2 linked regions of the Homo sapiens genome follow. The protein of the gene in region 2 purifies or fractionates together with the protein of the main gene of each other region. This does not show direct contact. Each region holds a gene or a part of one and is shown on either strand. Other genes may lie near its edges. The genes, in order: PGD and ALDH9A1.

Evidence for each region.
Region 1: the proteins of ALDH9A1 (region 2) and PGD fractionate together in Homo sapiens (co-fractionation; 2 studies listed by BioGRID). This does not show direct contact.

Annotation. Positions count from the first base shown.
Region 1 is NC_000001.11:10,408,940-10,412,854, forward strand, and holds part of PGD (6-phosphogluconate dehydrogenase, decarboxylating), read left to right. Parts: intron 1-2,478; coding exon 2,479-2,613; intron 2,614-3,915. UniProt on the Homo sapiens protein: Catalyzes the oxidative decarboxylation of 6-phosphogluconate to ribulose 5-phosphate and CO(2), with concomitant reduction of NADP to NADPH.
Region 2 is NC_000001.11:165,696,430-165,700,344, reverse strand, and holds the start of ALDH9A1 (4-trimethylaminobutyraldehyde dehydrogenase isoform 1 precursor), read left to right. Parts: upstream 1-1,782; 5' UTR 1,783-1,786; coding exon 1,787-1,967; exon of another isoform or gene 1,968-2,095; intron 2,096-3,915. UniProt on the Homo sapiens protein: Converts gamma-trimethylaminobutyraldehyde into gamma-butyrobetaine with high efficiency (in vitro). Can catalyze the irreversible oxidation of a broad range of aldehydes to the corresponding acids in an NAD-dependent reaction, but with low efficiency.

The sequences.
Region 1 (3,915 bases), about 160 Mb from region 2:
CATATTGTAGTTCAGCCATGCTGTGGATGGAAAAAAGCATTAGGCTCAGGAGACCTGAGTGGCAGTTCTGGCTTTCCATAAACTTAACTGTGACATCAGGCAAGCCACGTCCCTTCATGGACTTCAGTTTCCTTATCTGTAAGATATGGGGTTGGATTACATGATCTCCAAGCTCTCTTCAGCTCCTGATTCCCTTTAATTTTATATCAGCAATTTTAATGTGAATTTTATTATTCAATTTTATTTTATATGAAATCAATGCTGAGGTTGAAATAAGGACTCAGGCCTTTGAGGAATCCGGGAAGCCCTCCCTCCTAGGCCTGCCAGTGCTTGGTGGCTTTGGCCACAGCAGCTCACTTGTCCTTACCTTTTCACCAGTGGTTGGCCATTGAGCTCAGTCAGAATCTGCTTAGGGTAGAAAGAGGCTGGTGCTGGGACTGACGTAAAGAGCTGAGTAATCTTCTCATTAGTGTGAAGGATTGGAAAGGGACCTCTGTTCCCTGACAGTAGATTACTGCGGTAAAAGGCCGGGTGTAGTGGCTCGTGCTTATAATCCAGTATTTTGGGAGGATCCCTTGAGCCCACGAGTTCAAGGCTGCAGTGAGCAGTGATCATACTACTGCACTCTGGCCTGGGTAACAGAGAGAGACCCTGTCTCTTAAACAGAAAAAAACAAAAAGATCACTGCAATAAAAGTGAGTGGTAGCAACTTTTTTTTTTTTTTTTTTTTTTTTTTGAGACAGTCTTGCTTTATCGTCCAGGCTGGAGTGCAGTGGCATAATCTCAGCTCACTGCAACTTCCGCCTCCTGGGTTCAAGCGATTCTCATGCCTCAGCCTCCATTGTAGCTGGGATTACAGGCATGTGCCACCATGCCTGGCTAATTTTTGTATTTTTGGTAGAGATGGGGTTTCACCATGTTGCCCAAGCTGGTCTTAAACTCCTGACTTCAAGTAATCGGCCCACCTTGGCCTCCCAAAGTGTTGGGATTATAGGCGTGAGCCACCGCACCCAGCCTGCAACTTTTTTTTAGATACACACACTTAGGACAAAGTCATGAAGAGAAGCACAGTCCTTGCCCCTACGTGTGTTGATCAAGCAGGCCCTCCTTAGTTCATGGCTGAAGTGGCAGGAAGGGTAAGGTGAAGTAAGATGTTAGCAGCCATGTTACTCTGTGGCCAGAGTGTCAAAATCAGAAGTCAGCAGGGGCAGCAATAGAAACATGGACAAGGCCAGGCGTGGTGGCTCATGCCTGGAATCCCAGCACTGTGAGAGGCTGAGGTGAGTGGATCACCTGAGGTCAGGAGTTTGAGACCAGCCTGGCCAACATGGTGAAACTCCATGTCTACAAAAATTAGCTGAGTGTGGCGGTGTGCTCCTGTAATCCCAGCTCATCAGGAGGCTGAGGCGTTAGAATTGCTTGAACCCAGGAGGCAGGTGTTGTGCTGAGCCAAGATCACACCGCTGCACTCCAGCCTGGGCGACAGAGCGAGACTCCGTTTCAAAAAAAAAAAAGAAACACGGACAATGGAGTCCTGATGTGAGCGTCAGTTATACAACTGACGGTCCAGGTGGTGACAGCCAGGAGAGAGACTGCCCAGGTCATCCAAACACCTGGCCTCCTGGGCAGGTGTGTCCCTGTCATGGAGCTGGGTGTAGATGACTGAGAGTTTGATGCCATGAACTGTTTGGCTCTCGTCACTCCCTTTGTTCCAGTTCTTGACAACTAAATAATTTTCGGATAATCTGGCTTCCCAGTTGCTTGTCTATAGGGCCAGAATGTGTTGACCGGACTAACATTTGTAACCACGAAGATCCATAGTTAAGGTTTTCATCCTACATTCATTAACGGGTATTCTGATTTTATACATCTTGCCAGCTTATAAATAAAGATCTGGTCTTTATTTATAAATATAAATATAAATATAAATATAATGATGGGGCCTTGGAGGGACTCCTTTCTGGGCTTACAAGGTTGAGACCTTGGATCTAGGGTCATTTTACTTTTCAGTAGCCATTAGGAACAACTACAATACATTTATATTTTGAAAAAAAACAAGTGATTTAATTGGCCAATATATTTTAACCTCTAGTTGCTAGAAAAGTGGTAACTTTGGGAAAAAGAGGACTTTTTTTCTTGTGGGTGGGGGCTGGGAAGGTGGGGAGTTGCTTTGAATGATGAGAAAGAGTAGAAAATACAGGCTAGAGAGCCATAAGTATTGAAAGTGAATTCAGGGACTTTGAGAAACCTTGAGAAGAATGAGTCTAGAATTAGTGTTAAATAATATTGTACTGGACTGAAGCTTGCTTTGAATTGCTATATGATTCTTGTATCAAAAATGCTGTACTCATTTTATACTTGTTATTTTTTGTGTGGAGAGGTAGCCTTGCCAGGGATGTTGGCATGAAAGCTGATGTGGACTTCTCTGATGTGTCGCCTGTTTCTCTGAAGGCCTCTTGGTGCTTGTTGTCCTGACAGGTGGGAGATGAGGGAGCAGGCCACTTCGTGAAGATGGTGCACAACGGGATAGAGTATGGGGACATGCAGCTGATCTGTGAGGCATACCACCTGATGAAAGACGTGCTGGGCATGGCGCAGGACGAGATGGCCCAGGTGAGGCCCCGGCACTGCCTCTGTGTCCGTTCTGCAGGGAGTGCTCACTTTGCCACAGACACCGAATCTTTTCTTCATTCCTATCCCCTTGGCCATTCGGGTGGCCTGCATGGACTCAGCCTAATTTGAGGGAAACTGTTAGTAATAGGCCTATACACTATGCTAGTCAGTCACTAAGCAGAAAGTCCCCACAGAGTCTGGGTGGTTATCATCACCACCATTTAGCGTAGCTTACCTGGTGTCAGGCACTGTGTCACTCCACATACCTGTCCCATTTACTCCCACAGTTGTCCCACATGGCAGATGCAGCAGAAGCTTTCTTTCCTGATCAAGTTGGGATTGGCTTTTTGATAGTTAATCTGAAAAGTCAGTCCAAGTAGGGAAGCTGAAGCATTTCCCCCAACATTTTATTATGACAATATTCAACCATGCAGCACAGAAGTTTGAGAGTTTTACAGTGAACACCTGGATACACACCTCCTCCTTTCTCCCATCCACAGGTTCCTGTACTTGCTTTAGCAATGTCTGTCCATCCCCCACCAATTTCATCTTATTTTTTGGATACATTCAAAGTAAACTGCAGGTATCCATACTTTTGTTTTCCCTAAATACTTTAGATGAATGTATCTTTATCATGAGGTAAACATAGATTTTAACTGAAAACATAGGAAAGGACTTTCATTCACCCGCCATTTTTTGGAGGGCCAAGGCCTTCTCGTTAAGTATGGTTTGCTGATGCGCTTTCTAGTCGTGTCTTACCATCTAGAATTTCTAGTTTCAGTTATTTCCAATGGGATGTGATTTACAGACTCTAGCAAGGCATACAGTATAGCTTTCCAGATTTTTTGTTGTTTTCCTCCTAGTTTTTTATTCATGTCATCCTCACTTACTTTGACTATTGTTTGTTTCACTGGATTGCTGTTAATTGTTCTTTCTAAAACATTACCTTAGTTTTCTTTCACAGAAACAGTGCTATTCTTTTTGTGTTCATTTTTTATTGGTATATATAATACTTAACGTGTTCACTCAGCAAACACACGAGTGCTTTACTATATGCCAAGCATGATTCTAAATGCTGGGGATATACTAGTGAAGAAAGCAAAGTGCCTGCCCTCCCGGAGCTGGGAAGACAGACAGAAATAAATATACAATATCAAACTAGTTAGCGATGACTGTGAGAACGAAGAGTAAACTGGGACAAGATCCGGTGATTGCAGAAGGCTTCTGAGGAGGCGACACTGCACAGAGACCTAAGTGAAGTGAGGAGCCCTTGCCTCTGAGGAGACAACACTTCTGGTGGCC
Region 2 (3,915 bases):
CCAAAACAAACATCAGGAATTATGATGTGACAAGTCAAAATGCATTGGTTGGGGACAGAATCTTTTAAATAGAAATTGTCCCATAAAATTTGAGACGTATAGTTTCTGTACCTAAATGACCATTCAGTGATCTTGGAAATCTATAGTGCTGCTCGTCACCAACTCCTGATATGTTTCAATTCTGTTTGCAATGGACAATAATAAAATAATATGTGAGTGTGGCCTCAGGTATTCTGAGTTTGGGCACTGCTGTTTCCATCTGAGGACCAAGACCTACACATCTCAGTAGCACTGAAAAAGTGAACAAACTGGTATAGAGTGCCAGAAAACTTGATCAGAATACATTATATATACTCTAAACCTGAAAACCACACTCCCTAATATTGCGCTGGTGAGCTGGCAGGTAAAGGAAAAAACATTGAGAAAGACAGCAGCCCCCAGAAGAGAAACAATCCTAAAAGAAATGTCCAAATTGCCAATTACTTTCTGTTTGTCAAAGTCTCTACTGGAGGTGCATGGAAGTTTGGTGAGAAGAATGAACCTTTGTGCAAGATCCCTCAGCTGACAGACCTGTGAGTGCCTCTGGGTGGCTGCTTTGTCTTACAGAAGGCATTTTGTTTCCTGACACTTTTTCCTGTGGCCTTTGCTCTTCGTATTCTGTATGTTAGGCTTCTGTTTCTATCAATATTTGTCATTAATAGCATTTACATTGCTCCTTCAGAATTTATTTATTTTGAGACAGGGTCTCGCTCTGTTGCCCAGGCCTGAGTGCAGTGGCACGATTATAGCTCACTGCAAGCTTGGACCCCCGGGGCTCAGGGGATCCTCCCACCTTAGCCGCCCAAGTACCTGGGGCCACAGGCGTGTGCCACCACACCTGGATAATTTTTTTTTTTTCTGAGTTTCACTCTTGTCACCCAGACTGGAGTGCAATGGCATAGTCTCGGCTCACTGCAACCCGTCTCCCGGGTTCAAGCGATTTTCCCACCTCAGCCTCCCAAGTAGCTGGGATTACAGGCGCCCGCCACCACACCCAGCTAATTTTTGTATTTTTAGTAGAGACGGGGTTTTACCATTTTGGTCAGGCTGGTCTCGAACTCCTGACCTCAGGTGATCTGCCCGCCTTGGCCTCCCAAAGTGCTAGGATTACAGGCGTGAGCCACCGCGCCCGGCCCAATTTTTATTATTTTTATTTTATTTTTTTATAGACACGGGATCTCTCTCTGTTGCCCGCAAACTCCTGGGCTCAAGCGATCCTCCAGCCTTGGTGAGAGCCACAGCGCCCAGTCTCTCTTTAAGAATTTAAAAAGCAGTTTCAGATCACAATATCATCTATCTCGTTCACAGTCCCCTTGCTTTTTACTGTCACCCTTTAAAAAGCATTATACAATTACAGAAACGGTGGTTTAGCAGTGAAGTAACCACCAAAGACTCTTGGCACTCCAATCCTCTGCCTTCTTCAGGCGATAGGATTAAGAATGGGATCCTAGGATGCTTACATGCAATGATGAACCCGAAAACACTTGCAAAGTGCTACGCAAATATTGATCACGAAGAAGGAAGTCCTCTTCCCGCCTGGAGACTGTGTGGGGTATGGCGGGGTGGTGGGGAGAATGTGGTGTCTTGCTCCACCCTCCTGGCGAGGGGAGGGCCTGGCCTGGACCGCAGAGGAATCGAGTGACTGCCCCTAAAATCTCCTAGAACCGATCCCGCGGCCCCGCCCCTCCCGCGGCCCCGCCCCTCCCGCGGCCCGTCAGCCTCTGCCGCGGAGCTGCGTCCGCCACTCATGTTTCTCCGAGCAGGCCTGGCCGCGCTCTCCCCGCTTCTTCGCAGTCTTCGGCCCTCTCCTGTCGCCGCCATGAGCACTGGCACCTTCGTCGTGTCGCAGCCGCTCAATTACCGCGGCGGGGCCCGCGTGGAGCCGGCGGACGCCTCCGGTACCGAGAAAGCTTTCGAGCCAGCAACCGGTAACTGCAACGAGCCGGGGAGGCTGGGGCGCCCTGGGGCCGGATGCGCGGATTTCCCGGCCAGCCCCCGTTTCCTGTGTTCTGCAGCGTTGACTTGAGCACAAGACAGTGACAGTGGAGAGTCTAAGGTTGTGTGTGTAGGCAACTAGCGATTCTGGGGCAACGCGAGTGCCTCCGGGCAGGGATGGGTAGGGAGGAAAAGCAAAGCTGATGAGTTGCGTGGTAGGATCGTGAGTTGTTTTACCCGGGCCAGAACAGAGTTCGCAAAGTACTGGTGGGGGAAGTCGTGCCTCTGTTAACTTCCTTTTTTGTTTGTTTTGTTTGTTTGTTTGTTTTTTGTTTGTTTTGAGACAGGGTCTCACTCTGTCGCCCAGGCTGGAGTGCAGGGGCACCATCTCAGAGCTCACTGCGCCCTCTACCTTACGGGCTCAAGTGCTTCTCCCGCCTCAGCCTCCCTGGTAGCTGGGATTACAGGCTCCCACCACCATGTCCGGCTAATTTTTGTATTTTTAGTAGAGACGGGTTTTCAGCATGTTACTCAGGCTGGTCTCGAACTCCTGAGCTTAGGTGATCCTCCCGCCTCAGCCTCCCAAAGTGCTGGGATTACAGCCGTGAGCCACCAAGCCCAGCCAACTGTTCCCCCTTTTAAAACCAGGACTGATGTATTATTGTCTTCAAATGTGTGCATAGGAGAGGAATTCTAAAAGAACGGGGCGGGGTTGTGGGGAAGATAATCATTTGTGCTGGGAATGAAGGAACGCTCACAGATAGTTTCTAATGACTACGAATGAGGACTTTGTCTCCACATTCTAATATTAAAATATTTCTGCACATTAATCAGAATTGGGAAAGGAAAAAACCCCACCTTTATTCAGTACTTTCTTCCCCAGCTTTATTGAAGTATAATTAACAAATAAAAATTGTATATACTTAAGGTGTAAAACGTGTTGTAATGTATGTATACCTTGCAAAATGGTTACCACGGTCAATCTAATTATCCATTGCTTCTGCATAGTTAATGGCTTTTTTTGGATAGTGAAATATTTAAGATCTATTCTTTTAGCAAATTTCAAGTATATGATGCAGTATTGGTAACCATAGTCACCATGGTCTACGTGAGCTCTCCACAATTTATTCATCTTGCTGAAATAAAACTTTTTAATCCAGTGCTTAATGTGTGCTAAGCACTGTGCTAGGCACTGGATTTACTCTGGGAACTCTGAAGGTCACAGAGATAAGGAAGAAGGGGCTTTTTGTTTTGGTTTTGTGTTGTGTTTATTTTGCTGGGTTTTATGGAATATATGTGGGGAGAAAAATGTAAATATTTTGTGTAAAATGTAGCCAGAGCAATAAAACTGATTTGCAGGGGACTGGAGAATTTAGTATTTGACCATCCACACTAAACCACAGAGCAGTGACTTGGCAGAGCCAGAAGGCATTATCACATCTCTTCTTTATATAGGAGGAAACAGCTTCTCTACCCCGACTTAATCCTGATACAAAAGAAAGAAAAATTGCTCTTTGCTTTAATTGCCTACAGTGTGTGTGATCCTCAGCCACCGCCTTTACCAGCTGGCTATTCAAGTTTGTAACAGAAATTGCAGATTTGTGAAATCTCCCTGGAAAGAGTCCCAGGAGTTCTTGTGAAGAGGATTTGCTGAGTTGGCAAACTTAAAGAATTCTTGTTGGTAGAGGCAGTACAGTCCTTGGGCTATGGGCCTAGAAAAACTGATTGTTTCATAATTTGCACCAGAATAGGGAGAGGGAATAAAGGTGGAATAAGAAAAGGAAATCTGGGAATTTTTGAGAAAAAAAAAATGTTCCTTTAGGGTTGCCTTATCCTGATATTACTGCTTATTAACTATATTTATCAAGTATCAAGTAGTATGATATAACCTACATAGAATATAGACAAGGGATTTACAGTCAGAGTTTATAACCCAATAGA